Linked DNA regions of Homo sapiens: all the other regions are linked to region 2. The links come from fine-mapping of genetic effects on gene expression. A gene starts in region 2. Each other region holds a variant in brackets. All regions are shown on one strand. Distances are between the middles of the regions. Region 1 overlaps SREBF2 (sterol regulatory element binding transcription factor 2). Region 2 holds the start of PMM1 (phosphomannomutase 1). Region 3 overlaps CHADL (chondroadherin like).

What was found. PIP is the estimated chance that this variant, and not a neighbour inherited with it, causes the effect.
Region 1: its variant is fine-mapped to the expression of PMM1 in iPS cells (HipSci, PIP 0.95).
Region 3: its variant is fine-mapped to the expression of PMM1 in monocytes after LPS (Quach 2016, PIP 0.95).

The regions. Positions count from the first base shown.
Region 1 is chr22:41,879,992-41,890,052 of GRCh38, forward strand. SREBF2 (sterol regulatory element binding transcription factor 2) reads left to right here. Exons shown (of 19, transcript NM_004599.4): 10 at 725-1,001; 11 at 4,851-5,020. Among named protein-coding and RNA genes, the nearest start is that of MIR33A, 16 kb to the right of the region's middle. The variant G/T (reference allele first, on the strand shown) is at 5,576.
Region 2 is chr22:41,584,043-41,594,103 of GRCh38, forward strand. It overlaps PMM1 (phosphomannomutase 1), which reads right to left and starts at 5,798. Exons shown (of 8, transcript NM_002676.3): 1 at 5,677-5,798; 2 at 2,034-2,151; 3 at 485-561; 4 at 239-330; 5 at 1-16. The coding sequence starts at 5,763. RefSeq lists an enhancer at 4,923-5,602 and a silencer at 5,997-6,146.
Region 3 is chr22:41,230,570-41,240,630 of GRCh38, forward strand. CHADL (chondroadherin like) reads right to left here. Exons shown (of 6, transcript NM_138481.2): 2 at 8,874-9,051; 3 at 6,607-8,316; 4 at 5,915-6,081; 5 at 4,576-4,774. It overlaps L3MBTL2 (L3MBTL histone methyl-lysine binding protein 2), which reads left to right. Exons shown (of 17, transcript NM_031488.5): 17 at 1-702. Among named protein-coding and RNA genes, the nearest start is that of CHADL, 5.3 kb to the right of the region's middle. RefSeq lists enhancers at 6,161-6,749, 6,750-7,338, 7,339-7,927, 7,928-8,515, 9,965-10,061 and silencers at 7,113-7,212, 7,273-7,652. The variant A/ATTT (reference allele first, on the strand shown) is at 3,979.

The DNA.
Region 1 (10,061 bases), 300 kb after region 2:
GTTCAAGACCAGCCTGGGCAACATAGCAAAACCCCCATCTCTAAAAATGAAAAGAAACGCTTTAGCAGACATGGCATGAGAATCACCTAGAGGGCTGCAATACCAGAGATTCTGATTCAGTAGCCCTGGGGTAAGGTCCAAGTGCTTGCATTTCTAACAAGCTCCTAAGAGCTGATGCTACTGGCCTCTGGGGGCCACACTTTGAGACCCTGAAAGCCTAAAGGATCATGCAGTTCATCTAAATCTGTGTCACCACCTTATGTCTAAAAGCTACTGCTGGCCGGGCATGGTGGCTCACGCCTGTAATCCCAACACTTTGGAAGGCCGAGGCAGGTAGATCACTTGAGGTCAGGAGTTCGAGACCAGCCTGACCAACATGGTGAAACCCTGTCTCTACTAAAAATACAAAAAAAAAAAAAAAAAAAGTGCTACTCTGAGGGAACTCTGACCAGCATTTGCTCATAGAACAAACGCACGCAGTACAATCTCAATCGAGTAAAAAGTCTGTAAGGAAATACCTCAGAATGTCAGCAGGGATTCTTCCTGGGGGATGAGATTATAGGTGGTTTTGTTTTACTTTCTTGTAGCTTTCTGAAGTTTCCCTCGTTTTTATGAGTGTGCACTAATTCCTCTGATAATTGGGGGCAGGGGGAGTAGAAGTCTATATCAAAACAAAAAGCCGGAGCAAGGCCAGTGACCATTAACACCTTTTGATACTTTGTAGGGAGATTTTGCAGCTGCTGCCGGCAACCTACAAACCTGCCTGGCAGTTTTGGGCCGGGCACTGCCCACCTCCCGCCTGGACCTGGCCTGCAGCCTCTCCTGGAACGTGATCCGCTACAGCCTGCAGAAGCTACGCCTGGTGCGCTGGCTGCTCAAGAAAGTCTTCCAGTGCCGGCGGGCCACGCCAGCCACTGAGGCAGGCTTTGAAGACGAAGCTAAGACCAGCGCCCGGGATGCGGCTCTGGCCTATCACCGGCTGCACCAGCTGCACATCACAGGTGAGGGGGCAGCTGCTGCTGCCTGGCTTGCTGCAAGGCATCTCATGCTACCTCTCCTCCTTAGCTTGATTTGCCAGTTCTGCACCCTAGCTGAAGTCCCTTTAACGCTACTCTTTTAGAGTGGCTAGACCAAGCTTCTACCTGTTTTCACAGCTGTAAGGTTGGCTCTTTGCTTTAGCTCATCAGTTCTCAGATGCACATGTTTTCACAATAACATCACTATACTCAGGATGTGTCCTATAAACAGTGGCACATTGTAGATAAGTTGGCAGTGTTTTTCTTTAGTGATACTTAAATTAATGGTGAGACTTAAAATTGCTGACATCTTAGAGTCAATGAAATATGATCATCTGTTTCATTCAGTAAGCTCCTGCTATAATAGGCAGAGAGGTCAACAAATGAATGACAGTTCAGCGTGAGTATGTTAGACTTAGCAGAAGGAACATGTTTTCGTTGGGAGGGAGTGGGTACCCGTTTGGAGGGTTTCAAGAAAGGTTTTCTGGGGAAGTAGAGTCTTGGCTTTGCATGGAAGGATGCATAGAGGTCACCAGCTCTGCAGGAGATGAGCCTCTGGGCAGAGGGATGTTCCCAAGGAGGAGCCCCACCTGGGGTGGCTCTTGAGAATAAGCCTTCAGTGGTCCTAGAGGGAGCCAGGGCACAAAGGCAGTACTCAGACCATGAAGGATTTGGATGCCAGGCTGAGGATCTTGTAGTGTATCAGTAGGATTCAGTGAAGAGCATTAGGAAAATAGTGATATGATCAGGTTTGTGCTTCTCAAGTTTAGAAGAGTCAGGCTGGGCATGGTAGCTGGCTCACACCTGTAGTCCCAGCACTTTGGGAGACTGAGGCAGGAGGATCACTTGCACTCAGGAGTTCGAGACCAGCCTGGACAACGTGGCAAAACCCCATTTCTACAAAAAATACAAAAATTAGCCAGGCTTGGTGATGCACACCTGTAATCCCAGCTACCCAGGAGGCTGATGTGGGAGAATCACTGGAGCCTGGGAGATCAAGGCTCCAGTGAGCCAAGATTGCACCATAGCACTCCAAAAAAAAAAGTTTAGAAGATTCACTCTGATGGCAGATAAGGAGTGGATCCCAGAGGATCAAGGCTAGAGCTAGAGAGGCCAAATAGAAGCTGATGCAGATTAAAGATGAGAGTTGCTGAAAGGACAGATGAGAGGAAATTAGAAGGTGGAATTGACTGGACTGGGGACTCATTGGACTGATGGATGGGGACAGTAGTCAGCTAAGACGGTTCCCTGGTTCTTCCTTGGGAGTTTGGGTGAGCGATGGTGCCACCAACAAAGGTAAAGAAAATAGAAGGAAGAGCAACTTTCCAGGAAAAGGGTGGTGAGTTCCCTTTTGGACACTTGCCTGTGAGATGTGGAGGTGAGCTGGACATGCAGGATCTACAGCCCAAAGAAGACTACAGGTGAGAGTGAAAAGCAAGGGAGCCTATGAGAGTGGATAGGTGAAAAGGAGACCCTCAGGGCCATTCAGAAGAACACCCTCATCTAAAGAACAGATAGGCCATCGCGGTGGCTCACACCTGTAATCCCAGCACTTTGGGAGGCCAAGGCAGGTGGATCACCTGAGGTCAGGAGTTCGAGACCTGCCTGGCCAACATGGCAAAACCCTGTCTCTACTAAAAATACAAAAATTAGCCGGGTGTGGTGGCACGTGCCTATAATCCCAGTTACTCGAGAGGCTAAGGCAGGAGAATCACTTGAACCCAGGAGGTGGAGGTTGCAGTGAGCCAAGATGGCACCACTGCATTCCAGCCTGGGCAACAAGAGCAAAACTCCATCTCAAAAAGAAAGGATAAAGGCTGGCACAGCAGTTCACATCTGTAATCTCAGAACTTTGGGAGGTCAAGGAAGGAAGGTCGCTTGAGCCCAGGAGTTTCCCATCAGCCTGGGAAACACGGGGAGACTCCATCTCTCCAAAAAAAATTCAAAAAATTAGCTGGTTTTTGTGGTGTGTGTCTGTGGTTCCAGCTACTTGAGAGGCCAAGGTGGGAGGATCACTTGAGCCTGGGAGGTAGATCGAGGCTGCAGCGAGCTGTGATTGTGCCACTGCACATGCATGCAGAGATGAACAGATAGAGGATGGGGAGTCAGGGGCAGAGGCTGCCTGAGAGGAGCAGTTGGAGAGGTCTGAGGAGACACTGAGATGCTAAGTGTTGGAGGAGCAAGGTCAGAGAGTTGAGGAGGGGAGATTGTTGCTGGGACACCCAGTAAGATGAGGGCCAGGAATAACAGTAGGATGTGGTAACTGGAAGGTGTTAGATACCTTGATGGCAGTAAGGAGCTTCAGCCAAAAGTGGAACAGAGCCAGGCAAGTGATGTAGGAGTGACCAGGAGATGAGACAGTGGGGCCATTGTGCAGCTTTAATATGTGGGCTCATGGTAGAATTTTAGCAGAAGGTCCCTATCTGCAAATTTGCCCCGCTGTTATCTTGTCTGTTCCTCAGTGTGCCCTTGGGACAGAATAAGCCCATACTCAGGTCTCTGATCAGGCTGTGTCCTCCTTGCTGCCAAATTCTGGAGAATTCCAGCTGAGAAGCTTTACGTCACTCATTCCTTCCATACTCACTGGCATTCCCTGTGTGAGGCACTGAGGGGACAGAGGTAACTACAGTATGGTTGCCACACTGCCCTCTCACCTCCCTTCCTGTGTCTCCTGCAGGAGGAACACCTGAGGCCAGTACAGAATGGAGTGTGGAGGCTGAGATCTCCCTAGGCTGATAAAAAGACAGGGAGGCAAGGCAGCCCAGGAGGGGGAACACAGGGCTGGATGAGCACGGGAAGCCTGGCTTTGCCACTGTCTGCACCTTGACATGGGCACTTCCTCCCCTGAGGCAAGGAGACTGCTTGCCCTTGTAGTGAGGACCAAAGCCAGCAACAGTATGAAAGCCTCACGAGAGCTGTGATGGGCCCTTGTGCCTGTGCAAGGATACTTTGTTCCCTGATTAGGGGATCAGCCCCAGATGGGCCACTGTGCACCTCTCATAGGGGAGGGTGTGGTAAGCCTTCCTGGCCTCCCACCCACTAACCCAACATGTGTTCAGCTGTCCTTGCTCAGTTTACGTCACTTCCCCCTCAAACGGGTATGTGTTTGTGTATTGTGAAGGCGGGTTTTTTTTTGGCTTTTTTGGGGGACAGAGTCTCGCTCTGTTGCCCAGGCTGGAGTGCAGTGGTGCGATCTCAGCTCACTGCAACCTCCGCATCGCAGGCTCAAGCAATTCTTCTGCCTCAGCCTTCCAAGTAGCTGCAATTACAGGCGTGTGCCACCACGTCCAGCTAATTTTTTCTATTTTTAGTAGAGATGGGGTTTCACTGTGTTTGCCAGGCTGGTCTCGAACTCCTGATCTTAAGTGATCCGCCGGCCTTGGCCTCCCAAAGTGCTGGGATTACAGGTGTGAGCCACTGGCACCCAGCCACATTGTGAAGGTTTTTTAATGAAAATAAATTCAAATCAGTTCATCTAAAAAAAATTTCATTACCTCTGTTGAATGTTTGGAAACACACAGTGTGGCTGTGCTGCTGACATTGTTATGTTGCACTGTGCGCCTCTGAGTCCTATACAACAACCTGCAATTGTGACAGCTCTGGGTGTGACAGAAATGGGTGCCATGTTCCCAGCTACCCTGTGAGGTAGACAGGAACACACAGCCAGTATATCACAGAGCCTGGCATCCCATCCTGTGATCAGGCCTGTCTGATCACAAAGTTCACCTCGCTTCTCCCCTGGTTCCTCTCTTACTTTGATCGTGCTGGAGAGAGCAGGAAAAAGTTTGGTTTTGGGGCTCCATCAACAATAGTGTCTGTTTCTGCCCACCCTAGGGAAGCTTCCTGCAGGATCCGCCTGTTCCGATGTACACATGGCGTTGTGTGCCGTGAACCTGGCTGAATGTGCAGAGGAGAAGATCCCACCGAGCACACTGGTTGAGATCCATCTGACTGCTGCCATGGGGCTCAAGACCCGGTGTGGAGGCAAGCTGGGCTTCCTGGCCGTGAGTACCCTTCGGTTCCCTTCTGTAAACCTCCCCTGAGCACTTACCTAGCCAGGAGTTAAGATGCAGAAGCAGTTATGAACCCCCTTCCCCATCAGGTGCTGCCCACCTGGAGGGGTAGGCAGGCATTCATTCAGTCGCTCATTTCACCAGGACTCCCAGCAACCGATAAAACAGACCAAAATTCCTCCCCTTGTGGCCTTAATACCATAAGCCTTGTAGGCAGGACATTTTGGTCCCCTGAGGTAATATGAGGTAATATGAAGATTGGTTCAGCAATAGCAGAGCTACTGTACTTGGGGGTTAATATGCAACTTTTCTGTTCTTCAAGTGGTCATAAAAATTCTTAGAATCCCCTGGTTATGTCTCATGGTTCTTTCATTTACTCAGAAGGTATTTATTGGGCATCTTGTATTGATCACAGCACTGTGAATCCAGAAATAAAAGCCAGTGCCTTTGCCAAGCTACAGAGTTAAAGAAAAGAAAAATGAAATGAATAAAAGTAAAAGAAAACCTGTGCCTGTCTACAAGGAGCTCAGGTCAGACGAGGGCAGG[G/T]ATTGTGGCTATCAAGCACCTCCCATATGCCTAGCTAGGAGCCAGGCTTGGGAACTCTCAAATGGGTAATTCCCGGTCCTTGTTATCAGCTAGCTCACAACATGCTGACCTCAGGCTTTCTCTTACTCTAGCAGAAACAGGTATGTTTTACTTTGTGTCCCACTATGGATAGACTGCTGAATACATCAGGTATGTTCAAGCATTACCACATCTCTATTTGTTTCCGTATCTCAGTAACAGCAGAGATGAGCTGAGAATGAATCAGAACGTGCCCTGTAGTGACATTGATATATTTCCTGAGGTACATCACGATAGTCTAGGGGACAAAGGGCGCAGGGAAGCCCAGTGTACTCTTTATGTCTACACTTGATCTTAGCCAGAAGGCTGAGAAGTGATACTTTTTATGTCTTACCTCTGTTTCTGGTGACTACAGATAAGAGACTCATCCCTTGATTCACTCATTCAGCAAATATGACTGAGCACCGTCTCTAAGCAGGACATTTGCCTTGTCCTCAGGGAGCATAGTTGGCAAGGAATCTAGACAGCAGCCCTTCTTGAGCTTGACATTGATCTTCTCATGAGGAGGACTGGGCTCCAGGTGGGGAAAGAACCCCATCCTCACTTGTGGGCTAGACGACCTGGGAGTCCACAGACACTGAAGACACATCATTCTTCCTATTCATTTCAACCTTCCCTCGACAGATCTTCCTGGGACCAGGTCTTCAGGACAGTGTGAGCTAGGGTGAGCTCCTGAGCTGGTCTTGGGGGAAGTCAGGGTGGGCTTTCTGGGGAAGGTGAATCTAGGCTGACAGCAGGAGGCATTGATGAGATCTCTCTCCTTTTCAGTTTATTGAAGTGCTCTGGGCTGATGTCATTACATTTGTAACTTCCATGCCCCCCAAAAATGTTTTGAAGACATTCATTTTATCAAAATACAACATACATGCAGAAAAATGCCCACATTTTAACTTACGGCTTGAAGTGAAGTTACCCATGCAACACCCACCCACATCAAGAAGTAGAACATTCCCAGCACCCCCAGAAGCCTTCTTGAGGCCCTCCCTGCTCTTCCTGCCCCAACCAAGGTAACCACTCTTCTGAATTCTGTCACTGGAGTTTAATCTGTCTATTGTTCATCATTTCAGTAAACTTATCAAAGTACATGCTTAGAAGTCTGGCTGGGAGGGCCGGGCACGGTGGCTTACCCCTGTAATCCCGGCACTTTGGGAGGCCAAGGCGAGCAGATCACCTGAGGTCAGGAGTTCAAGACCAGCCTGACCAATATGATGAAACCCTGTCTCTACTAAAAATACAAAAATTAGCCAGGCGTGGTGGCATGTGCCTATAATCTCAGCTACTTGGGAGGCTGAGACAGGAGAATCACTTGAACCCAGGAGGTGGAGGGTGCATTGAGCGGAGATCACGCCATTGCACTCCAGCCTGGGCAACAGAGCAAGACTCCATCTCAAAATAAATACATACGTACATACAAACAAAAATTAGCTGGATGTGGTGGTGCACACCTGTAATCCCAGCTACTTGGGAGGCTGAGGCAGGAGAATCGCCTGAACCTGGGAAGTGGAGGTTGTAATGAGCCAAGATTGCACCACTGCACTCCAGCCTGGGTGACAGAGTGAGTGAGACTCCGTCTCAAGAAAAAAAAAAAAGATTACAATATGCATGTCAAAAAGTATACAAATCATAAATACACAGTTCAGTGACTCCACAGAGTAAACACACCCTTATAGCCAGCAGACAGATCAAAGTACAGAACCAAGACCCCAGAAACTTCTCTTGGGCCCTTTGCAATCACTAACCTGCCCCTTCCCCCAAGCCTTCCAGCCTTCCAAGGGTAACCACCATCCTAGTCACCTCAGATGCTTTGCCTCTGTTTAAACTATATTAATATAAGGAGAGTCTTGCAGTATACACTGTTTTGTGTCTGACTTATTTTGCTCAATATCATGTGTAAGAATCATTATGTTGTTATGTAGAATTATAGATTGTTCGTTCTCATATTTATAGTGTTCCATTGTATGACTAGATTATTGCAGATGAACTTTTTAGTTGTTTTCTGGCTTTGGTTATTATGAAGGGTGCTGCTGTGAACCTCCTTGTACACACATCTTTCAGGAAACGTGACTGCATTTTTAGGAATGGCATCGCTGGGTCAGAGGTTGTGCGTATTTCCAAATTGTTGGCCATTCTCCACTCCATCAGCAGTGAACAAGACTTCTAGTTCTACATCCTTACCGAACACATATAATGTCAATTTTTTTAAGCCCTTCTAGTGTATCTCATTGTAGTTTTCATTTGTACTTCCCAGGTGATTAATGAGATTGAGCACCTCTTCTTACATTTATTGGCAATTTGGATAGTCTGTTTCGTTACATTCAATTCAAGTCTTACCTCTTTTTCATTTGGACTATCTGTCGTCTCATTGATTAGAGGAATTCTTTATTCTGGAGATTACCCCTTTATTGGATATATGCTTTTCAGATACCTTCTCCCACTCTGGGGCTTGCCTGTTCTGTCTTAATGGTGTCTAGTGAGAGCACAAGCTCTTAATTTCAGTGAAATCCAGATTATTAGTCTTTTCCTTTACAGTTAGACATTTTAAGTCCTGTTCAATAAATCTTTGTCCTACCTCAAAGTCATGAAGATATTCTCCTATGTTGTCTGCTAGACGCTTTATTTTTTACTCTTTACACATATGTACCTAATCCACCTGGAATTAATTTTTATAAGAGTTGGAGGTAGGAGTGCAAGATCTGTTTTTCTCCATAAGGATATCTACCTGACGCAGAACCTGTTATTTTAAAAACTATCCTTCCCCTGCTGCACCAAGTGGCACCTTTTTTTCATAAATCAAGGATCCGTGTACCGTGGGTCTGCCTCCAGATCTAGTCTGTTCCACTGCACCATCACCACCCAACCCTAACGGCTGAGTTTTCTCTTACGTCTTGATGTCTGGAAGTGTTGGTCTTCCAGATTTAGTGACTAACGATGAATCTTGGGTGTTTCTTTGTAGCCTCTTCATTCTACAGAGGTACTTGATGCTGCTGATGGACATTTGGGTTGTTTCCAGTATTTGCCGTTATAAACAGTGCTTTAGGGAACATTTTTGTCCATTGTCTTCATGCACCTCCATAAGAGTTTCCTCAGACCAAATCTGTAGAGATGGTGATGCTGTGTCAAAGGATATAAATATTTGAAACTTAATAGTATTACCAAATTTGCATATTCAGTAAGATGGAAAAAGGAGAACTGTCATCTTTAAAGTAACTGCTCTTCTCTGTTTACTTCTCTTGAGAGAGGATAAAGAGACTCAGACAGTACTTTCTTATAAAGGAAGAAGCTTTGAATTTGGTGAGATATATTTAGCTACAAATGAGCCAGTTGTTGGGGGCAAGTGGAGGGCTGGCCTCTGTGAAAATGGTTTAGACTAGAGGTTCCCAAACTTGCTCAACTCATGACTCAAGATTCCCAAACATTCTCTACTCACTATGTCTCAGTAAATTTTTCATGGCATCCCTTAGCCAAAAGAAATACCTAACGGTTCTGGTTTTCGTTTTTTGAAACAGTGTCTTGCTCTGTTGCCCAGGCTGGAGTGCAGTGGTGCAATCACGGCACACTCTAGCCTCAACCTCTCTGGGCTCAAGTGATCATCCCACCTCACCCTCCCGAGTAGCTGGGACTGCAGGTATACACCACCACACCGAGCTTATTTTTGTATTTTTTGTAAAGTCAGGGTTTTGCTATGTTGCTCAGGCTGGTCTCGAACTCCTGGGCTTAAGCGATCTGCCCACCTCAGCCTCTCAAAGTGCTGGGATTATAGGCATGCACCACCGCGCCTGGCCTCTGTTAAGTAGTTAAGTTTGAACATCCTAATAGGTATTTAAATTGTCTTAACAGCTTAGTGGTCATTTGAAAAAATCATATGTCAAGTTGAAAGAAGAAATAATATTTTTTGCTAGGAGTGGTAGCACACACCTGTGGTCCCAGCTCCTCAGGAGACTGAGGTAGGAGAATCTCCTGAAACCACGAGTTTGAGGCTGCAGTTAGCTATGGTCACACCTGTGAATAGAGCCACTCCACTCCAGCCTGGACAACATAGTGAGACCATGTCTCTATTAAAAAAAAAAAAAAAGAGGTTGGGCACGGTGGCTCATACCTGTAATCCCAGCACTTAAGGAGGCTGAGGCGGGTGGATCACCTAAGGTCAGGAGTTTGAGACCAGCCTGGCCAACATGATGAAACTCCGTGTCTACTAAAAATACAAAAATTAGCCAGGGATCGTAGCACGCACCTGTAATCCCAGCTACTCGGAAGGCTGAGACAGAATCACTTGAACCCAGGAGTCAGAGGTTGCCGTGAGCCGAGATTGTGCCACTGCACTCTGGGTGACAGAGCAAGACTCTGTCTCAAAAGAAAGAAAGAGAGAGAATATTTTGGATTCTTAATAATTTCTTAGAAATCATGGTTA
Region 2 (10,061 bases):
CTCGATGAAGGTTCCACTGGTGGTGAGGGAGGGCGGGGAGCCAGAGAGAACCAGAACGGCCCTGAATTCAAATCTAGCCCCACCTGGGACCCCAGCCTCCTAGGACTTCAAAGGGGACAAGAATCCACACTCCCCGCAAAAAATCAGGGGCCCAAGTATCTCCAGGTTCCCTCTGAGGGACCCACACTTCTCCTCCCTCAGGCCCCAGGTTCTGGAGACCAGGCTGGTGGGACCTCACCGCTTCTTGGGCAGCCTGAGCAGGGCCATGTAGCTGAGGCAGAAGTTGATCAAGTCCTGCAGCAGCTCCTCCCCCAGGTGGTTCTGGATGGTCTGGCCAAGGAACACAGGGCTCTGAGCGTGGCCTGGGCTGCCTGACCCTGAGACAGGCACAGTGTCTCTCCCCCAGCCCAGGACAGAAGCCCCCTTGGACTGCTCCACTATGGAAAAGTGGGGTGCCCCTGGCTAAGCCCTGGGGGACACTGACCTGCTTGGAGAGCAGTCGTCCGTGCTTATACTGCACCGTCCCGTTCTCGGCAAACACATAATCAAACTTCTCAATGACTTCAGGGTCACATAGAGGACAGGAGGAAGAAAGAGTGTGAGACCACGTCTGTGACCCCACGGGCAAGTAAAGAGAGAGGAAGCCTACACCCTTGGTTTCACATTCAAAGGCCATTTGTTCAATCTGAGGCTACAACCTGCTTCTCCAGCCTTTCTCCCTCTGCAGCTTGGTTTTCTTCCAAAGAAGCCAGTCACACCTGTGGGCCTCTGCACACAGGCATCCATGCAGGTCCTTCTGTCAGAACCGCCCTTCCCTGGCTTCCCTGCCACTCATCCTCCAAGATTCAGCTTCCTCCTCTGGAAGCCATGCAGTACTCTCTGGCAGAGGGCATCATTTCCACTCTGTGCTCCCCTGCCCCTCTGCAGAGGGGCTCCCTTCTGTTCTATAGCTGCCATCGCACTGGGTTCTCAAGGCTGGCTGCATGGGAGAGTTGGAGGTTTCAGCTCTGACTGCCAGGCGAAGCAGTTGGAGTGGGTGGGAGGTGGGAGGCACAGGGAGCACAGCCCAGAGGCTGTTGCGGGGTCTGGGTGGCACGTGGTTACCTGGACTATGATGGCGTGGTGGAGATGGAGACAGAGGGGACAGGGAGATATTTTGGGGTTTGCTGATGGAATAAACAAGAGGTGGGGAAAAGGAAAAATTCGAGGAAGTTTCTGGCTTGAGGAACTGGAGGCACCCACTTTGACTGGGCTGAGACCAGGGGCTCTGAGGTCCAGTCGATTTCCTGGATAACTTCAGAGTCATCCTCTGTTAAATGGGATGATCACGCCTACTCTAAAGTGTGATTGTGGGGATCAAATGCAATGACATTAACACATGATCATTTTTGACAAATGGTAGCCATCATTGGTTCTGCCCTTTTATTTATTTATTTATTTATTTATTTATTTATTTATTTATTTTTGGATGTGTAGCCTCACTCTGTCACCCAGGCTGGAGTGCAGTGGCCTGATCTTGGCTCACTGCAACCTCCGCCTCCCAGGTTCAAGCGATTCTCCTGCCTCAGCCTCCCGAGTAGCTGGGATTACAGGCACGTGCCAACACACCCAGCTAATTTTTTGTATTTTTAGTAGAGACGGGGTTTCACCATGTTGGCCAGGCTGGTCTTGAACTCCTCATCTCAAGTGATCCATCCGCCTCGGCCTCCCAAAGTGCTGGGATTACAGGCGTAAGCCACTGTGCCGGCTGGTTCAGCCCATTTTAAAGATGAGGAAATCAAGACTCAGCAGGGAGAAATGAGAATGTAAACTGCATAAGGGCAGGTTCTGCTTGCTTTGCCCCAGCCATTTCTCAAGGGCCTGGCACAATCCCTGGCAATAGGAAGTGCTCAAGTGTTTGTCAAATCAGTAAGGGAACTATCTGGCTGCTCTCTCTCTATTTCTTCTGCCCCACAGAAGCAGGACTGGATCTTTGAAGACGCCCAGGAATCTCTCAAACTCCCCACTCCCTCTACCCCCAGCCTCACTCCTACCTTCATCCCCGTCACCCAGCTGCTCAGCGATCTTACAGTAGTCAGAGCCGCCCACCACACCGATCTGCACTCTACTTCGTAGCTTCTGCAGGAAGGCGGCCACCTCAGGGTCAATTTTCTATGGGGGGAGAGGGGAAGCATAGCATTCTGGCTTTCAACATGTCTGGGACCTCCACTTAGCCCTCACTTAGTGCTGAGAACCCAGGAAGCCCACATTCTACCTGGATCTGAAGCAGTACAAAGCTTAGACACCAAAAATTAGACAGGTTGGACACTGTGGCTCAGGTCTGCAATCCCAACACTTTGCGAGGCCAAGGCAGAAAGATCACTTGACCCAGGAGTTTGAGACTAGAGCCTAGGCAGCAAAGGAAGACATTGTCTCTATGAAAAAAAAAATTTTTTTGGAGACGAATTTTTGTTCTGTCATCCAGGCTGGAGTGCAGTGGTGTGATTCTGGCTCACTGAAACCTCTGCCCAGGCTGGAGTGCGATGGCGTGATCTCAGCTCACTGCAACCTCTGCCTCCCGGGTTCAAGCGATTCTTCTGCCTCAGCCTCCCGAGTAGCTGGGATTACAGGCGCCTGCCACCATGCCCAGCTAAGTTTTAAATTTTTAGTAGAGACAGGGTTTCGCCATGTTGGCCAGGCTGGTCTTGAACTCCTGACTTCAGGTGATCCATCCGCCTGGGCCTCCCAAAGTGCTGGGATTATAGGCGTGAGCCACCGTGCCTGGCCGAAAGTTTTTAAAAATTAGCCAGGCATGGGCTGGCACGGTGGTTCACACCAGTAATCCCAGCACTTTGGGAGGCCCAGGAGGGTGGATCACTTGATGTCAGGAGTTCGAGACCAGCCTGGCCAACATGGTGAAACTCTGTTTCTACTAAAAATTAAAAAAAAAAAAAAAAAAAAATTGGCCATGCGCGGTGGCTCACGCCTGTAATCCCAGCACTTTGGGAGGCCGAGGCGGGTGGATCACAAGGTCAGGGGATTGAGACCATCCTGGCTAACATGGTGAAACCCTGTCTCTACTAAAAAATACAAAAAAATTAGCCGGGCGTGGTGGCACGCGCCTGTAGTCCCAGCTACTCGGGAGGGCTGAGGCAGGAGAATGGCGTGAACTTGGGAGGCAGAGCTTGCAGTGAGCTGAGATCACGCCACTGCACTCCAGCCTGGGCGACAGAGCGAGACTCCGTCTCAAAAAAAAAAAGAAAAAAAAATTAGCTGGGCGTGGTGGCAAGCGCCTGTAATCCCAGCTACTCAGGAGGCTGAGGCAGGAGAATCCCTTGAACCCGGGAGGTGGAGGTTGCAGTGAACCGAGATCATGCCATCGCACTCCAGCCTGGGGGACAAGAATGAGATTTCATCTCCAAAAAAAAAAAAAAAAAAAGATATTAGCCAGGCATGGTGGCACTTGCCTGTAGTCCCAGCTACCAGCTACTCCAGAAGCTGAGGCGGGAGAATCACTTGAGCCCAGGAGTTCGAGGCTGCAGTGAGCTGTGATAGCGCCACTGCACTCCAGACTGAGTGACAGAGTGAGACCCCGGTCTCTAACAACAACAACAACAAAATAGCATCACAATCAAGTTGATTTTTGAGGAGCCAAAGAACAATAACAAAAATAGCCTCACAAAACAATGCTTAATATTTGCTCTGGGCAAATAGATCCAGATAAAGGCCTGGAGGGAAGCCACACCACAGTAACCACATTAACTTGGGGAGCCGGCCAGGCTCCCCAAGTGCGGTCAGAGTGGACTTTACCCTTCTCTGTTACGTTTCCATTCTTTACCAGGAGAGTGTGCTCATGAAAATGTGTACGATTAAAAATTAACTTTCAAAAGGCACTAAGCACAGAGGCTGGCCCGTAGACAAATTAATAGGCTGTTCTTATTCAGGTTGTTATGTTTGTGGAGCAAAAGGTCAGAGGGAGGAGTCAGAACTGTGCCTAGGCCCTGCCACTTTTGTTCCAGTTCTTTTATTCATTTATTTGTTTGTTTGAGACGGAGTTTCACTCTTGTTGCCCAGGCTGGAGTGCAATGGCACAATCTTGGCTCACTGCAACCTCCACCTCCTGGGTTCAATCGATTCTCCTGCCTCTGCCTCCCCAGTAGCTGGGACTACAGGCACACGACACCACGCCCATCTACTTTTTGTTTTGTTTTGTTTTGAGACTGAGTCTCCCTCTGTCGCCCAGGCTGTAGTGCAATGGCACATTCTCGGCTCACTGCAACTTCTGCCTCTCGGGTTCAAGTGATTCTCCTGCCTCAGCCTCCCGACTAGCTAGGATTACAGGTGCATGCCACCACGCCTGGCTAATTTTTTGTATTTTTAGTAGAGATAGGGTTTCACGATATTGGTCAGGCTGGTCTTAAACTCCTGACATCGTGATCTGTCTGCCTCGGCCTCCCAAAGTGCTGGGATTACAGGCGTGAGCCACTGAACCCAGCCTAATTTTTGTATTTTTAGTAGAGACGGGGTTTCACCATGTTAGCCAGACTGATCTAGAATTCCTGACCTCAGGTGATCTGCCCACCATGGCCTCCCAAAGTGCTGGGATTACAGGCGTGACCCACAAGCAAATGGCCCACCTTTGCTCCAGTCCTGCTATCTTCCTCCCGGATCCACCCCTGCAGGAAGGCCTCCAGGGCCCAAGCCAGGGCAACTTCACCACAGAGGATGGGGAGGGGCATTCGGGACCTAAGAGAGGAGGCTAAGACCTGGGTTCCCATCAGCCACTGCCCAGTAAAGCCCATCCCACTGCTCCCCCACGCTAGGAGACCTGTTGGTTGGTCCTTGAGGCCCCCAGACTGGAGGGTGGGTTACCCACAGGGAGGGCATGAATGAAGCCTGCTTACTGATGCATCCAGCTGGTGAGGGGGCTTTTGGGGACTCACTCACAATGAGACCCAATGGGAGAAAAACTGAGCAGAGGTAAGAGGCTCAACACAGCGAGAGTCTTTAGAAGAAAACTAGACTCTTACCCTCACTATTCCTCAGTGTCCTCACAGCAAACAGGCTAGGCCTGGAGCCTCTCACATCCGGGTGGGTAGAGCTCATAAACGAATTTGAAAAGAAGCCCTCTCTGCTCCACGACTGGGGGTGGAAGGTAAAGTGGGTGATGGGGCTTCAGAAACTAGACCCAGTCCCAGGCCTGCAAAGGTCGGGGTGGGAAGACTCCGAGACGCCCTGTCTCCCACCAGATGATGACTGACGCTTGGCTGTGTGCTTGTGTGCCTGGAACCCCGGTTCAGAAGCCAGCTCCGACCACTGGTGTGTCGTAGGGCTGAACTAGGGTGGGATCCCCAGCTCAGGAGGCGGGGGCGTCCGTGAGCCAGGCCTTAGCGGCGTGTGACAGCCTCCGGGGAGGGAGGGAGCTAGGCCCCTGCTCGCAGCCTCCTCCCTCCAGTACTGGATCCAACCCCAGCACTCCCAAGCAGAACACAGGCAAGGACGCTGCGGGGTCAGTGACGTGAGGGCCAGGTCCCCTCACTCCCGGTGGGTGGCCCCGGATGTCAGGGGGCCGGGTACCGCCGCATCCCACACTCGGTCCCCGGGTGTCCACGGTCACGCTGCTGCAGACCCCACACTCAGCCTCGGGGGTGTCCGCGTGACACTCCCGGTGGGAGCTTCCAATCTTCAGGGTCCTACCTGGCGAGCCGGCGTGAGGGTCCCGTCCACGTCAAACAGGCAGAGGACGCGCTCCTTCCTGCGGGCTGCCTGGGCGGTGACTGCCATGGCTGCAGGTCCGCGCGCGGGGCGGAGTCCCGAAGATGCAACGGCAGAAGCAGCTCAGGGATAAGTGCTGACGGGGCGGGGCATTAGGGGGCGGGGGCCAGTGGACTGCCTGATTGGCCAAATGAAGAAGGGGCGTGGTCTAGGCGGGCGGAAGCGGGGGCGGGGCCTGAGCTGATTCTCATTGCTCGTGGAGGAGGGGAGCGCGGCATAGGGCGGAGCGGAGCCCTCCAGGTTCGATTGGATTGCTCCAAACAAGGCGGAGGAGGGGCCTGAGCCTGGGACCCGCAGGAAGTGAGAGGGTGAACCCGGAAGACAGGGGCGGGGCCAGAATTGGCGGGTTGATAGTGATTGCAACAGGCCGATTAAGGGGCTGGGTCGGGCGGGGCCTCTACCATGCAGTGCAGTGTCTAGTGGGCCAGGCGGGACTAAGAGAGCCGAGGTCGCTCCCCATCCACTCTCACAAGGTTTGTGGCCATCTCTTTGCCTTACAAATTTTGAGCTGTAGGAAATCTCCTGAGCCGGGCGCGGTGGTTCACGCCTGTAATCCCAGCAGTTTGGGACGTCGAGGCGGGCGGATCACCGGAGGTCGGGAGTTCGAGACCAGCCTGACCAACATGGAGAAACCTCGTCTCTACTAAAAATACAAAATTAGCCAGGCGTGGTGGCGCATGCCTGTAATCTCAGCTACTCAGGAGGCTGAGGCAGGAGAATCGCTTGATTCCAAAGAAGCCAGAGGTTGCGGTGAGCCGAGATCGCGCCATTGCACTCCAGCCTCAAAAAAAAAAAAAAAAAAAAAAAAGGAAAGAAAAGAAAAGAAAAGAAATCTCCTGAAGGCCTTTGTTCAGGCTTTGGACTTTGCCAAATTGCCTTCCCCGAGCCTTATTCCTTCTGTCCACACATAAGACCCAGCTCTCAGGGTCTACCTGCTTGGAGACCTTCCCAGATTCTTCTTTTTTTTTTTTTTTTTTGAGACAGAGTCTCGCTCTGCCCAGGCTGGAGTGCAGTGGCGGGATCTCTGCCCACTGCAACCTCCACCTCCCAGGTTCAAGCGGTTCTCATGCCTCAGCCTCCCGAGTAGCTGGGACTGCAGGCGTGTGCCACCATGCCCACCTAATTTTTGTATTTTTACTTACTTTTATGTTTATTTTATTTTATTTTTGACACAGGGCGATTTATTTATTTATTTATTTATTTTTTGAGACTGGGTCTCACTCTGTTACTCAGGTTGGAGTGCAGTGGCATGATCTCGGCTCACTGCAACCTCCGCCTCCCAGGTTCAAGTGATTCTCCTGCCTCAGCCTCCTGAGTAGCTGAAACTACAGAAGTGCGCCACCACGCCCGGCTAATTTTTTTTTTTTTTCTGAGACGGAGTTTTGCTCTTGTTGCCCAGGCTGGAGTGCAATGGCACGATTTCAGCTCACCACAACCTCTGCCTCCCGAGTAGCTGGGATTATTTTGTACCCACTACCACGCTCGGCTAATTTTTTATTTTTAGTAGTAATTTTGTATTTTCACCATGTTAGCCAGGCTGGTCTCGAACTCCTGGCCTCAGGTGATCTGCCTGCCTCAGCCTCCCAAAGTGCTGGGAATACAGGCATGAGCCACCGTTCCCAGCCAACCTTCCCAGATTCGATTCACAATTATTTAACCATTGCGTTGACTTTGGAGTCACTTCCAGGTTGCCTTCCCAGCTCCACCACTATGGGACCTTGGACAAGTCACTTCACCTCTCAGAGGCTTTGTGTCTTCACCTATAAAATGGGATGAACACCACCTGCTTTGTAGGTTTGCTTTTCACATGAAAATAAGTAACAGGCTGGGCGCGGTGGCTCACGCCTGTAATCCCAACACTTTGGGAGGCCGGGATGGGCAGATCACCTGAGGTCATGAGTTTGAGACCAGCCTGGCCAACATGGGGAAAGTCCGTCTCTACTAAAAATACAAAAATTAGCCGGGCATGGTGGCAGGAGCCTGTAATCCCAGCTACTTGGGAGGCTGAGGCGGAAGAATCACTTGAACCTGGAAGGCGGTGGTTGCAGTGAGCCGAGATGATGCCACTGCGCTCCAGCCTGGGAGACAGAGGGAGACTACACCTCAAACAAACAAACTAACTAACTAACTAACTAACTAAATAAATAAAAAATAACTGTAGAGCTGGATGCGGTGGCTCACACCTGTAATTCCAGCACTTTGGGAGGCCAAGGTGGGTGGATTGTTTGAACCCAGGAGGTCAAGATCAGCCTGGGCAACATGGCAAAATGCTGTCTCTACTAAAAATACAAAACATTAGCCAGGCATGGTGGCAGGCACCTGTGGTCCCTCAGGAGGCTAAAGTAGGAGAATCACCAGGAAGCTGAGGCTGCAACGAACCAGATCTTCCCACTGCACTCCAGCCTGGGTAACAGTAGTGAGACCCTGTCTCAAGAAAAAAAAAAAAAAAGATGCAGATCATATGAGTCAGCAATTCAACTTTTAGAAAATAGGAAAAGAGGCTGAGCGCGGTAGCTCACGCCTGTAATCCCAGCACTTTGGGAGGCCAAGGCAGGCAGACCACAAGGTCAAGAGATCGAGACCATCCTGGCTAACGTGGTGAAACCCCGTCTCTACTAAAAATACAAAAAATTAGCCAGGCGTAGTGGCGGCACCTGTAGTCCCAGCGACTCGGGAGGCTGAGGCAGGAGAATCCCTTGAACCCGGGAGGCGGAGCTTGCAGTGAGCCGAGATCACACCACTGCACTCCAGCCTGGGCCATAGAGCGAGACTCTGACTCGGAAAAAAAAAAAAAAAGGCCAAGCGCGGTGGTTCACACCTGTAATCCAGCACTTTGGAAGGCTGAGGTGGGCGGATCACGAGGTCAGGAGATCGAGACCATCCTGGCTAACACGGTGAAACCCCATCTCTACTAACAATACAAAAAATTAGCTGGGCGTGGTGGCGGGTGCCTATAGTCCCAGTTACTTGGGAGGCTGAGGCAGGAGAATGGTGTGAACCTGGGAGGCGGAGCTTGCAGTGAACCGAGATCACGCCACTGCACTCCAGCCTGGGCAACAGAGCAGACTCCGTCTCAAAAAAAAAAGAAAGAAAAGAAAATAGAAAAAAGGAAAAATATATGGAATTGTTTAAATGAACTAAGACCCATCTAGAAGATGAAATGCTACGAAGCCATGAAAATCTGCATTGTGTTTGTGTGCGTGTGCACGTGTGTGTGTAGAATAGGGTCTCACTATTTTGTCCAGGCTGCTCTCAAACTCCTGGCCTCAAATGGTCCTCACGACTCAGCCTCCCAAAGTGTTGGGATTACAGGCGTGACCAAAGTGTTGGGATTACAGGCCTGACCCACCGCACCAGATCCCCAGGCACAATTCTTGTTTTTCTGACTGGGTAGCTATGGTGTCCTGGAGAGATCATTGGAGTTGGAATCAGGAGAACTGCAGTTTGGTCCTGGCTAACTACAAGGACTTGGACAGGTCACCTTTCCTCACTGGGCTTCAGTTTCTTTATATGTAATGAGGATATAAACCCCACGTGATAGAACTATGAAAGGTGATGAGAGGTGACAGCGTACTAGCAGCCCTCGCTCACTCTTGGTGCCTCCTCAGCCTCGGCGCCCATTCTGGCCGTGCTTGAGGAGCCCTTCAGCCCGCCGCTGCACTGTGGGAGCCCTTCTCTGGGCTGGCCGAGGCCGGCGCCGGCTCCCTCGGCTTGCGGGGAGGTGTGGAGGGAGAGGCACGGGCGGGAACCGGGGCTGCAAGCGGCGCTTGCGGGCCAGCTAGAGTTCTGGGTGGGCGTGGGCTTGGCGGGCCCCGCACTCAGAGCGGCAGGCCGTGCCGGCCCGAGCAGTGAAGGGCTTAGCAGCCGGGCCAGCAGCTGTGGAGGGTGCGCCGGGTCCCCCAGCAGTGCCGGCCCACCGGCGCTGCGCTCGATTTCTCACAGGGCCTTAGCTGCCTCCCCGCTGGGCAGGGATCGGACCTGCAGCCCGCCATGCCTGAGCCTACCCTCTGCCGTGGGCTCCTGCGCAGACAGAGCCTCCCCGGCGAGCGCCGCCCCCTGCTCCATGGCGCCCAGTCCCATCGACCACCCAAGGGTTGAGGAGTACGGGCGCACGGCGCGGGACTGGCAGGCAGCTCCACCTGCAGCCCCGGTACAAGATGCACTGGGTGAAGCCAACTGGGCTCCTGAGTCTGGTGGGGACTTGGAGAACCTTTATGTCTAGCTAAGGGATTGTAAATACACCAATCGGCACTCTGTATCTAGCTCAAGGTTTGTAAACACACCAATCAGCAGCCTGTCTAGCTCAG
Region 3 (10,061 bases), 350 kb before region 2:
GACCCGCCACGGCCCTCAGTTGCCAGGGATGGGGCCACCACTGTCACACTGTGGAATACAAGACAGTGAACTCTGTCTGCCTGAACGAGCCATGTAAATTAAGTTCTAGAGCAGCTCTCTGAGCAGGATAAGGTCCCCTGACAGTGAGTTGTGTGGTGGGGGCAGCCTCTGCCTCAAAAATTCACCAAGCAGAATGCCTCTCAGCCTCATGTGTTGGTCCTCTGCTCCTCCTAGCTCCCCAGGGATGTTGGGGACCCAGCTTGTCTCGGCAGCTAAGAAGCAGTGACCAGGATGTGGATTTTGGCGACCTGTGTGGTGGCCTTGAGCTGCTTTCTGTGTTTGTGAGGACTGACTCCCATTTCCTAAAGGAAATGCCCCCGGGGAGGACATTGGGAGGAAGATGGCCTGAGTGTGCACTTTGGCTCTGCTACCTGCTCCTGAAGCCCCGCTAAAAATAATTCATCCAAGATTCCTTTGTAGTTAAAGGGTCCAGTTCTGACTGGAGCCTCTAGAGAGCTGGGCTTGTATGTTCTTTTGGCCTTTTGTTCCTACCTAAATGAAGAAACCATGCCTGGAGGGGCCGTGAACACAGAACCCTCAAGACAAGGATGACAGAGCTGGAGGACACATCTAGCTGCCATTGCAACCTCACTGGGCTCCCCAGACTCTGTGTGTGAGAAATTAAACCCCCTGCTTGCTTGAGTCCCGTTTGTTAGATCTCTATTCCTTGCAGATTGTGTTCTGACCCCACCCCCCCACCTCGTGGTATCGATCATGAAGGCCACGTGAGTCAAGACACGAGTGTGCAGGGCCGTAAAGAAATGTCGCCTGTCATCAGCTCAAGTTCCCTGTCTTAGCCACATGCTGTCATTCTTTACGGTTGTGCCATTCTCCCCAAAGACTGTGAGTTCCCCAGAGATGGAGCCTGTGTCCGCCTGTGCGTAGCACCTGGCATAGGCTGGCATAAAGTTGGCTTGTGTGTGTGAAATGGGAATGTGCGCATGACCACGTGTTGCTGGTGCCTAGAGGTCAGCTTGATTTGTTGGAGATAGAAGTATTGATCTCTTGGGAGTTTTTGCTCAATCCATGCAGTAACCTTGTGCCTCAGTTTGCCCTTGGAGGGAACTCAAGTTCTTGGAGTCTGAGCAGTGGGGCTGCTGGCAGGGAGGCATTTGCAAACCCCTCATCCCTGCTTCTGCCTCAGGACCCACAGGGGCTCCTGGTACAGGTGAGACCAAATCCAGACCCTTCAGGAACCTGCCCTGCCTCCCTTGTCCTTTATGGCCATCCAGTCTAGCCCCTCTGCTGCAGGGAAAGGGATGCAAGGGAACTCCATAGTATCAAGAGCCCCTACCCAGGTGCCAGGTTAAATAGGTATCTAAATGGCTCATTTCACCTTCACAGTAACCCTGTGCAGTACTGATGGGAAAAAAGAAGCCTCAGTACAGTTTAGTCGTTTGGCTGCTTAAATTTACACCTGTTGCCGGGCGCGGTGGCTCACGCCTGTAATCCCAGCACTTTGGGAGGCCACGGCGGGCGGATCACAAGGTCAGGAGATCGAGACCATCCTGGCTAACACGATGAAACCCTGTCTCTACTAAAAATACAAAAAATTAGCCGGGCGTGGTGGCAGTCACCTGTAATCCCAGCTACTCGGGAGGCTGAGGCAGGAGAATCACTTGAACCTGGGGGGCGGAGGTGGCAATGAGCCGAGATTGCACCACTGCACTCCAGCCTGAGCAACAGAGCGAGACTCTGTCTCAAAAAAAAAAAAAAAAATTTACACCTGTAAAGGATGGCAGTGGGGTTGAACCCAGGTTTGTCTGCCAGATGACCTAGTCGTGAGTCAGTCATTCAGCCTTCCCGAGCATCTTCTGGGTGCCAGACACCAAACTAGACACGGGCATCAAGGGAGACTGGCAGACGTCCATCCTGGTGCCTTCAGCAGGCGAGCATCTCCAGCCGGGAACAATGCCAGTGCCTGAGCCTCAAGATAAGAGCCCTCTGCCTTGAATTCCTTTGTATTCCTGGGAGGAAACTGCTACTTTCATCAAAATAACCCACAATACTGAAAGGAGTATCAGAAGGGATGGCTAGGTCAAATGGCCTGAGACGTCCTGATTCCAAAGCCATCATACTGTGTGTAGGGGTGGGGACCCGGGGTGTCTTTCCCTTTTAACTAAAGCCCTGACCTGGAAGTGGACTCATCAGAGCTTCCACTCCTGAACCCAGCTCCGCTTCTACATGAGCCTCCCGGGGCTGACGCAGGGAGAAAGCACTGCTGCCATTTCCCAGTCGCGCACGTGACTGCCAACTGAGATTAGTATTGCTCTCATCAACGATAGTTCCGGGTCTGGCTTCCAAGGCAGAACTTGCTTACCTTCAGCTTGGGGTCTTTTCAGGAGTTCCTTCCCGGCTCCCAGCCAGAAATTAGGAACACTTTATAGACTGACTTGTGCCCATCCCAAAAGGCTGGATCCCTAACCCCAGTACCTCAGAGTATGACCTTACTTGGAAATAGATTCCTTACAGAAGTAATGAAGTTAAAATGACATCCTTAGGTTGGGCCCTAATCTAATAGGCTGTTATATTTATAAAAAGGGGAAATTTGGCTGGGCGCAGTGGCTCACACCTGTAATCCCAGCACTTTGGGAGGCTGAGGCAGGTGGATCACCTGAGGTCAGGAGTTCGAGACCAGCCTGACCAACATGGTAAAACCCCTTCTCTACTAAAAATACAAAAGTTAGCCATGCGTGGTGGCACGCACCTGTAATCTCAGCTACTTGGGAGGCTGAGGCAGGAGAGTCGCTTGAACCCAGGAGGCAGAGGGTGCAGTGAGCCAAGACTGTGCCATTGCACTCCAGCCTGGGCAACAAGAGCAAAACTCCATCTCAGAAAAAAAAAGGGGGGGTGGAATTTGGGCAGAGACAGATTATAGAGGGAAGATGATGATACACAACATCACGTGAAGGTTGGGACAGAGATGGAGATTATGCTGCCACAGATCAGGGAGCACCTGGGGCCACCAGAAGCTGGAAGAGGCAAGGGGGACCCTTCCACTACCTGTTCCAGAGAGCACTACCGGTTCCAGAGAGCACGCCCCTGCCAACACCTCAACGGCTGACCCCTAGCCTACAGAAGCTCTGCTGTTCTAAGCCACCCAGCTCCTAGCATTTTGTTGTGGCAGTCCTAGGGGATGAATACAAACACCAACTAATGGCCCCAGGAATCCCAGATGTTCAAAATGCAGGTCCAGGGGAGATAGAGCCCTCTCCCCACCTTCCCAGGCCCCACTCTATTCTCACTTTCCCTGGAAGAACTTCCTCTCCCTTTTGGACACCTCCGTGGCCTTACAGGCAGTGGTTCCTACATACGGGGGTGCCTGTATCTTGTGCACCCTTCTCTGATATGCTGTGAGTTTGCTACAACTGAGGGGTCAAGCTGGGACTAGATATGTCAGGATGGTGAATGTACTATCAAGTGGGGTCCAACCTATGGCTAGTAGGTGGTGGGAGGCAGAGCCAATGATGCACCTGCACTTCCACTCTCCCCATCCCTGGGATCCTGGGATGAGGGAGACCCCTTAGGTCAGGCTGGGACATGGTTGAGTCAACAGTGATCCAGCAAATATAGAAACAGCAGGACCGATTTTAGGGATACATCTGGACCAGCACAGTGTGGCTTATAGGAAAGGCCACTGTCCCACAGCAGGAGCAAATGGTCACTCCTTGCAAACCCACCCTGGGTCTAGCCCAGAGGTGGGGGCAGGGAGGAGGGAAGAACGGGAGGATGGACATTATTATTATTATTATTATTATTATTATTATTATTGAGACGGAGTCTCACCCTGTCGCCAGGCTGGGGTGCAGTGGCGTGATCTCTGCTCACTGCAACCTCTGCCTCCCGGGTTCAAGCGATTCTCCCACCTCAGCCTCCCAAGTAGCTGGGATTACAGGCGCCCGCCACCACGCCCAGCTA[A/ATTT]TTTTTTTTTTTTTGAGACAGAGTGTTTTTGAGTCTTGCTCTGTCGCCCAGGCTGGAGTGCAGTGGTGAGATCTCCGCTCACTGCAAGGTCCACCTCCTGGGCTCACGCCATTCTCCTGCCTCAGCCTCCCAAGTAGCTGGGACTACAAGCGCCCACCACCACAGCCGGATAATTTTTTTGTATTTTTAGTAGAGACAGGGTTTCACCGTGTTAGCCAGATGGTCTCTATCTCCTGACCTCGTGATCTGCACGCCTCGGCCTCCCAAAGTGCTGGGATTACAGGCGTGAGCCAACGCACCCAGCCATAGTTTTTGTATTTTTTAGTAGAGATGGGGTTTCACCATGTTGGCCAAGATGGTCTTGACCTCTTGACCTCGTGATCCGCCCACCTCGGCCTCCTGAAGTGCTGGGATTACAGGCGTGAGCCACCGCGCCCAGCCTCGGATGGACATTATTGAACTGACGCAACTGGGTCATTGCCCAGCTCTGGAACCACATGAATCAGGACCAAGCCAAGTCAGGCTCCTGCTTCCTGGGGACTTTGGAACCTGGCCCACCACCCACCAAGGTCTCACCCCTCCTGCCCCATGGCCAACCTTATCTGCTCCACACTGTCTTCCTTTGATGGGGGTTCTCCTGGCACTGGGCCTGGAGGCTGGTGTCCGCTTGGCCTTTCTGGCAGCCCAGCCCGGGCAGTCTTCAAAGACAGCAGCTGCAGCCTTCACCCTCTGGCCACGGGCATTGGGAGGGGTGGCGCAGGTGGCCCCCACCCGCAGGTTCAGCCCAGTAAGCCACCTGAAGAGAAAAGAGAGCTGGGGAGCTAGCTGTGCTGATTCTGCTCCAGTGGCCTGGAGCAGGTGGGCACTGGGTGTGGGGCAGGGTTGGTGCAGAAGGCAGCACAAGGCCACAGGCAGCATGCATTCATTCGCTCAACAAGCATTTGCCAGCTTTCCTGAGGAGGTCAAGGAGGCCACCAGGAATTTGGGAGCGGTGGAGCCTATAGGTGACAGCAGGCTCTGCTGAGAATCTTGGCGGCTCACCAATTATGTGACCTACAAGCCACTTCAAGCCTCTGATCCCTTCTTTGTAAAAAGGGGATAATAATAGTAATAATAAACAGTTAGAGGGCTTACAACGTAGCAGACACTGTTCAAATCAACTTATCTATGCTAATTTCATTCTTACAACAACCATCATGAGGTTAGATACTACATCCCCCCTTTTTACAGATGGGCAGGAAAGGTTACGCGGCTTGCAGAGTTAGTTGGTAAAATACCAGAGCCAGGACTGGAGCCCAGGTCTGCAGGACTCCAGGCTTCTTGTGACTTTTTATTTTTTTTTGAGATGGAGTCTCACTCTGTCGCCCAGGCTGGAGTGAAGTGGCGCGATCTCAGCTCACAGCAACCTCTGCCTCCCAGGTTCAAGCAATTCTCCTGCCTCAGCCTCCCAAGTAGCTGGGATTACAGGCACCCACTACCACGCCCAGCTAATTTTTGTATTTTTAGTAGAGGCAGAGTTTCACCATGCTGGCCAGGCTACTCTCAAACTCCTGACCTCAGGTGATCAGCCTGCATTGGCCTCCCAAAGTGCTGGGATTATAGGCGCGAGCCACCATCCCCGACCTCTTGTGACTTTCTCATGTAATTATGTAAAGTGGTCTCGCCTACCTATTAGGTCCCAGCCCGCTAGGCAGAGCAGATACCATGCCCACTTTATGGATGATGAAATCAAGGCTCAGAGAAGTCCACCCTCAACATCCCCAGGAAGGGTAACTAACCCTGGAAAGGGCTTATACATGCCTGGCTCTCACAGGACCCGCCCCTCCCCACAAGCTGCTCGGATGGGCATGGACATGGTGTGCCTGGGGAGATGACAGGGGCTTGACTGAGAGTGGCTGGGTGGTCTTTGGCTGGAGGTCTAGGTGGGGGTGCCCACCTGTGCAGCGGAAGCAGCTGGCAGTCACAGTGGAAGGGATTGCTGCTGAGGTCGATGAGCTCCAGCTGGCTGAGACTGGGCAGGGCAGGCAGGGCCCGAAGCTGGTTCTTCTGCAGGTGCAGGCTCTGGAGCCCGGGCCCCAGGCCTGAAAAGGCCCCAGGACAAATCTGCAAGGAGTTGCCAGGCCCCAATGTGAGCTCCTGGCAGAGCTGTCCCACCCCCAAGTCTGGAAGGGAGCCCCATCTTCCCTCAGCAGAAGAGAAGCTGGAGAGCCCAAGCTGGTCCAGCCAGGAAGTGCAGCGCTGGGTCAAAACCCAGGCTGGTCTGATGTCAAAACACTTGCTCCGTCCAAGTCACCCAGATGCCCAGTTCATGGTCCACCCCACCACCCAATAATGGCAAAACCTCTTGGGGGCTCTCAATATGTACAAACAGTAGATGACTGCATGGTCCCAAATTCCTCCCTCCTCTATGCTCCAGCAATACCGTCCTGTGCAGGCACCGTGTGTGGCCTGGGTTCTGCCCGGACTGTCACTCACACCGGTAGGGGCAGTCCTGGTTTATCTCAGGGTCCCCGTGCCCAGGCTGAGACCTGGCACCAAGGGGCTGGCAAATGCTTGTTGAGTGAATGCACGCTGCCTGTGGCCTTGTGCCGCCTCCTGCACCAACCCCGCCAGATGCCCAGTGCCCACCTGCTCCAGGCCACTGCTGTTCAGGAAGAGGTGCTGCAGCGACCTGCCCACAGGCTGGAAGGCTCCGTCACGCAAGGCCCTGAGTGGGTTGCCCGAGAGCTGCAGCTCCAGGAGGGCAGGCAGCCCCTCCAAGGCCCCAGTGGGCACCTCTCGCAGCTGATTCCTGTCCAGGTGCAGCTTCTCCAGCTCCCGAGCTGGGCCCAGCGCCCCAAGGGACACTTCGGTGATGCGGTTTCCACTCAGGTAGACCCAGCGCAAGGCCCGTGTTCTCCCCAGGTCCCCAGGTGCCAGGCGGTCCACAGCGTTGTCCTGCAGGTGCAGGGAGAAGAGGCTGGGCAGGGCGCGCAGGGCAGCCCCTGGCACCTGCAGGAAACGGTTGCGTTCTAGGTACAGGTAGCCGAGGCGGGGAGCCCCTTCAAGGGCAGCAGCGCTGAGGCCTGCGAGCTGGTTGTCGGAGAGGTACAGGTAGATCAGGCGGCCCAGCCCGGCCAGGGCGCCCGCTTCCAGCTCCGCGATGCCGCAGTGCTGCAGGTGCAGCGACACCAGGTGGCCCAGGCCGGGGAAGGCCGCTCGGGGCACCGAGGGGAAGTGGTTCCGCCTCAGGTCCAGGAGCTGGGTGTCGCTGGGGAAGCCGCGGGGCACCGCCTGCAGGCCGCAGCCCTCGCAGCTGCTGTGCCGGGACTCGGGGACGCACACGCAGGCGCGAGGGCAAGGCGCGACTGCCCGCTCCTCCCCGGGGCCGCGCGGAGGGCCGCGCGGAGGGGCGCGGGGCCCGGCCACAGCCCGCTCTTCCAGCTCTTCCTCTTCCTGCGCCGCGTCCCCAGGGCAGCGCAGGTCCCAGGGCCGCAGGGCGTCCAGAGCCTCGCCCCGCAGGCGCCGCGGCCCCTGGCACGCGCCGTCCGAGCGCACGCGCGCCCGCGCCAGCCACTCGAGTAGGGGCCGCGCCTGGCAGCCGCACCACAGCGGATTCCCCTGCAGCCGCAGCCGGCGCAGCTGGCCCGGGCCCTGCAGCGGGGGCAGGGTGTCTAGCTGGTTCCCGCGGAGGTCGAGGGTGTGCAGGCGCGGACAGTGTGCGAAGGCCCTGGGACCCAGGGCCTGCAGGGCCCCGCCGTCCAGCAGCAGCTCCCGCAGGCCGGGCAGCGCCAGCCCGTCCTCCTCGCCCGCGTAGGTGAGCGGGTTGTGGCCCAGCTCCAGACGGGCCAGGCCGCGGGCCTGGGACAAGACAGGCCCGGGCAGAGCCTGGAGCTCGTTGTGGTGTAGGCTGAGCCGTCTCAGGGCGGGCAGGCCAGCCAGGGCCTCGGGGGCCAGCACGCTGAGCGCGTTGTGCGACAGCCGCAGCCAGCGGACGCGCAGTAGCCCCTGGAAGGCCATGGCGGGCAGGTAAACCAGGGCGTTGTGGGCCAGGTTTAGCGTGGCCAGCGCACCCAGTGCCCCGAACGTCCCCGGCCGCAGCTCCTCCAGTGCGTTCCCCTCCAGCTCCAGCCGCCGCAACGAGCCCAGCCCGTCCAGCGCCTCCTGGGGCAGCTCACGCAGGTGGTTGGAGGCCAGGTTGAGCAGGAGCAGGCGGCCCAGGCCACGGAAGGCGCCCTCGGCCACCAGCTCCACCTCGCAGTGGCGCAGGTCCAGGTGTGTGAGGTGAGGCACGCCCTGGAAGGCGGCTGCGGGGATCACCTTCAGCAAATTGCCCTGCAGGTCCAGCCGCTGGGTCAGCTGGGGACAGCGAGGAGAAAGTGGGGCTGAGCCAGGCAGGGACCCCGCCTTTGCAAGTGCTGCTTCTTCCCCGGAACACTCTTTTCTCCTGTCACCTTTCCCATATTTCTCTTCATCCGACCCCTGACACCTCCTCCAGGAAGCCTTCCTCTCCAGTGCCCTGGGCATCACCCACTGTGGCATTTTTCACACTGTGCTGTCCCTGCCTCCTCGCTCTCTCTCCTCCACTAGCTGATGACTCTGCAGAGCAGAGACCACACCTCACCCTGCCACAGCCCGCCTCTCCACCACAGGGTCTGCAGTGAATTCAGTATCGATCTATGGGTCACCTACTTATTCCATTCACACAGTAAGGATTTTAAATAGATCATCTCCCTGTTACTGGTTTTTATTATTCCCATTTTACAGAAGTGTAAACTGAGGCTCAAAGAGAAGTAATTTGCCAAGGTCTCCCGGGCAGGCGGTGGCAGATCAACTGGTGCCCAGCCCAGGCTCCTCCCTCTGGGTCCCCACCTTGCCCCACTGCCACTCTGTGCCTGTGCTCCTGCCCTGCTGACCTCAGGGATGGCGTCTGGCACCTCAGTGAGGTTCTGGTACCGGCAGGCAACGTGTCGCCTGGAGTTGTCACAGATGCAGGCCTGTGGGCAGCGCTGGGCGGCGGCCTGCCTAGCCGGGGCCAGCAGCAGAAGTACAAGAAGCGGCAGCACCAAGGGGACATGGGTGGAGCTCCGGGGCCTGGGACGGGGAGGGAGAGTCTGTTGTGCACAAGGGCCGAGGCCACATGCTGTCCCTCACTTAGTCCCAGCCATGGTGCAGCTCCTGCCCCAAAAACCCCTCAGAGCCTCCTCCTTTGGGCCCAGGAAAGTGCCAATCACCCTGAGCCTCCCTGCCCCCCACCCCCCACGCAGTGGAGGTCCTATGATTAGTCCTGTTTTACATGGGAGGAAACCGAGGCTCAGAAAAGTGACCTGGTTAGTCCCTTTGCCTCTGCCCAATGGCTCAGTGAGGACTTGCTGACTGTGAGAATGACTCCAGTTCAGAGCATGTTCTCAGGCTGTGGTGAGGCTCTGGTCCAGGGTAGGCTCGGAAGCAGCCTGTCCTCAGACTGATATGATGCCAGCTCCCAGGTGGCAGGAGCATAATGGTACCCCCCAGAAAGGAGGGAGGCATCCAGTCCGGGTCCTTGAGTCTTTTTTTGTTTGTTTGTTTAAATAGAGACAAGCCTTGCTCTGTTGCCCAGGCTGGAGTCTGGAGTGCAGTGGAATGACTATGGCTTACTGCAGCCTTCACCTCCTGGGCTAAAGTGATCCTCTCACCTCAGCCTCTTGAGTAGCTGGGACTACAGGCACACACCACCACGCCTGGCTAATTTTTTAATTACTTCTGGTAGAGACAGGGTCTCGCTATGTTGCCCGGGCTGGTCTTGAACTCCTGGCCTCAAGTGATTGTCCCACCTTGGCCTCCCAAAGCGCTAGGATGATAGATCACCTCCCCTGCCCAGCTGGCCCCTCTGTTCTCAGCCTGTGTCAGGCATGGCCTCTCCCCCATCGCTGGGCTGTTCCCCGGCCCCCAGGAGCCTCCCCCTCGCTGCTCACTGGACTATCGTCTGTTTTGGAGTCTCCTTTGGGTCCCAGGCTCCAGCCCCTGCGTTGGAGTTGGTGGCTTCTCCAGAGCCTGTGGTGAAGGCTGTGCCTCAGGGCAGGCCAGGGAGGGGACCCATGGGGACAGATCGCTGAAGCGACAAG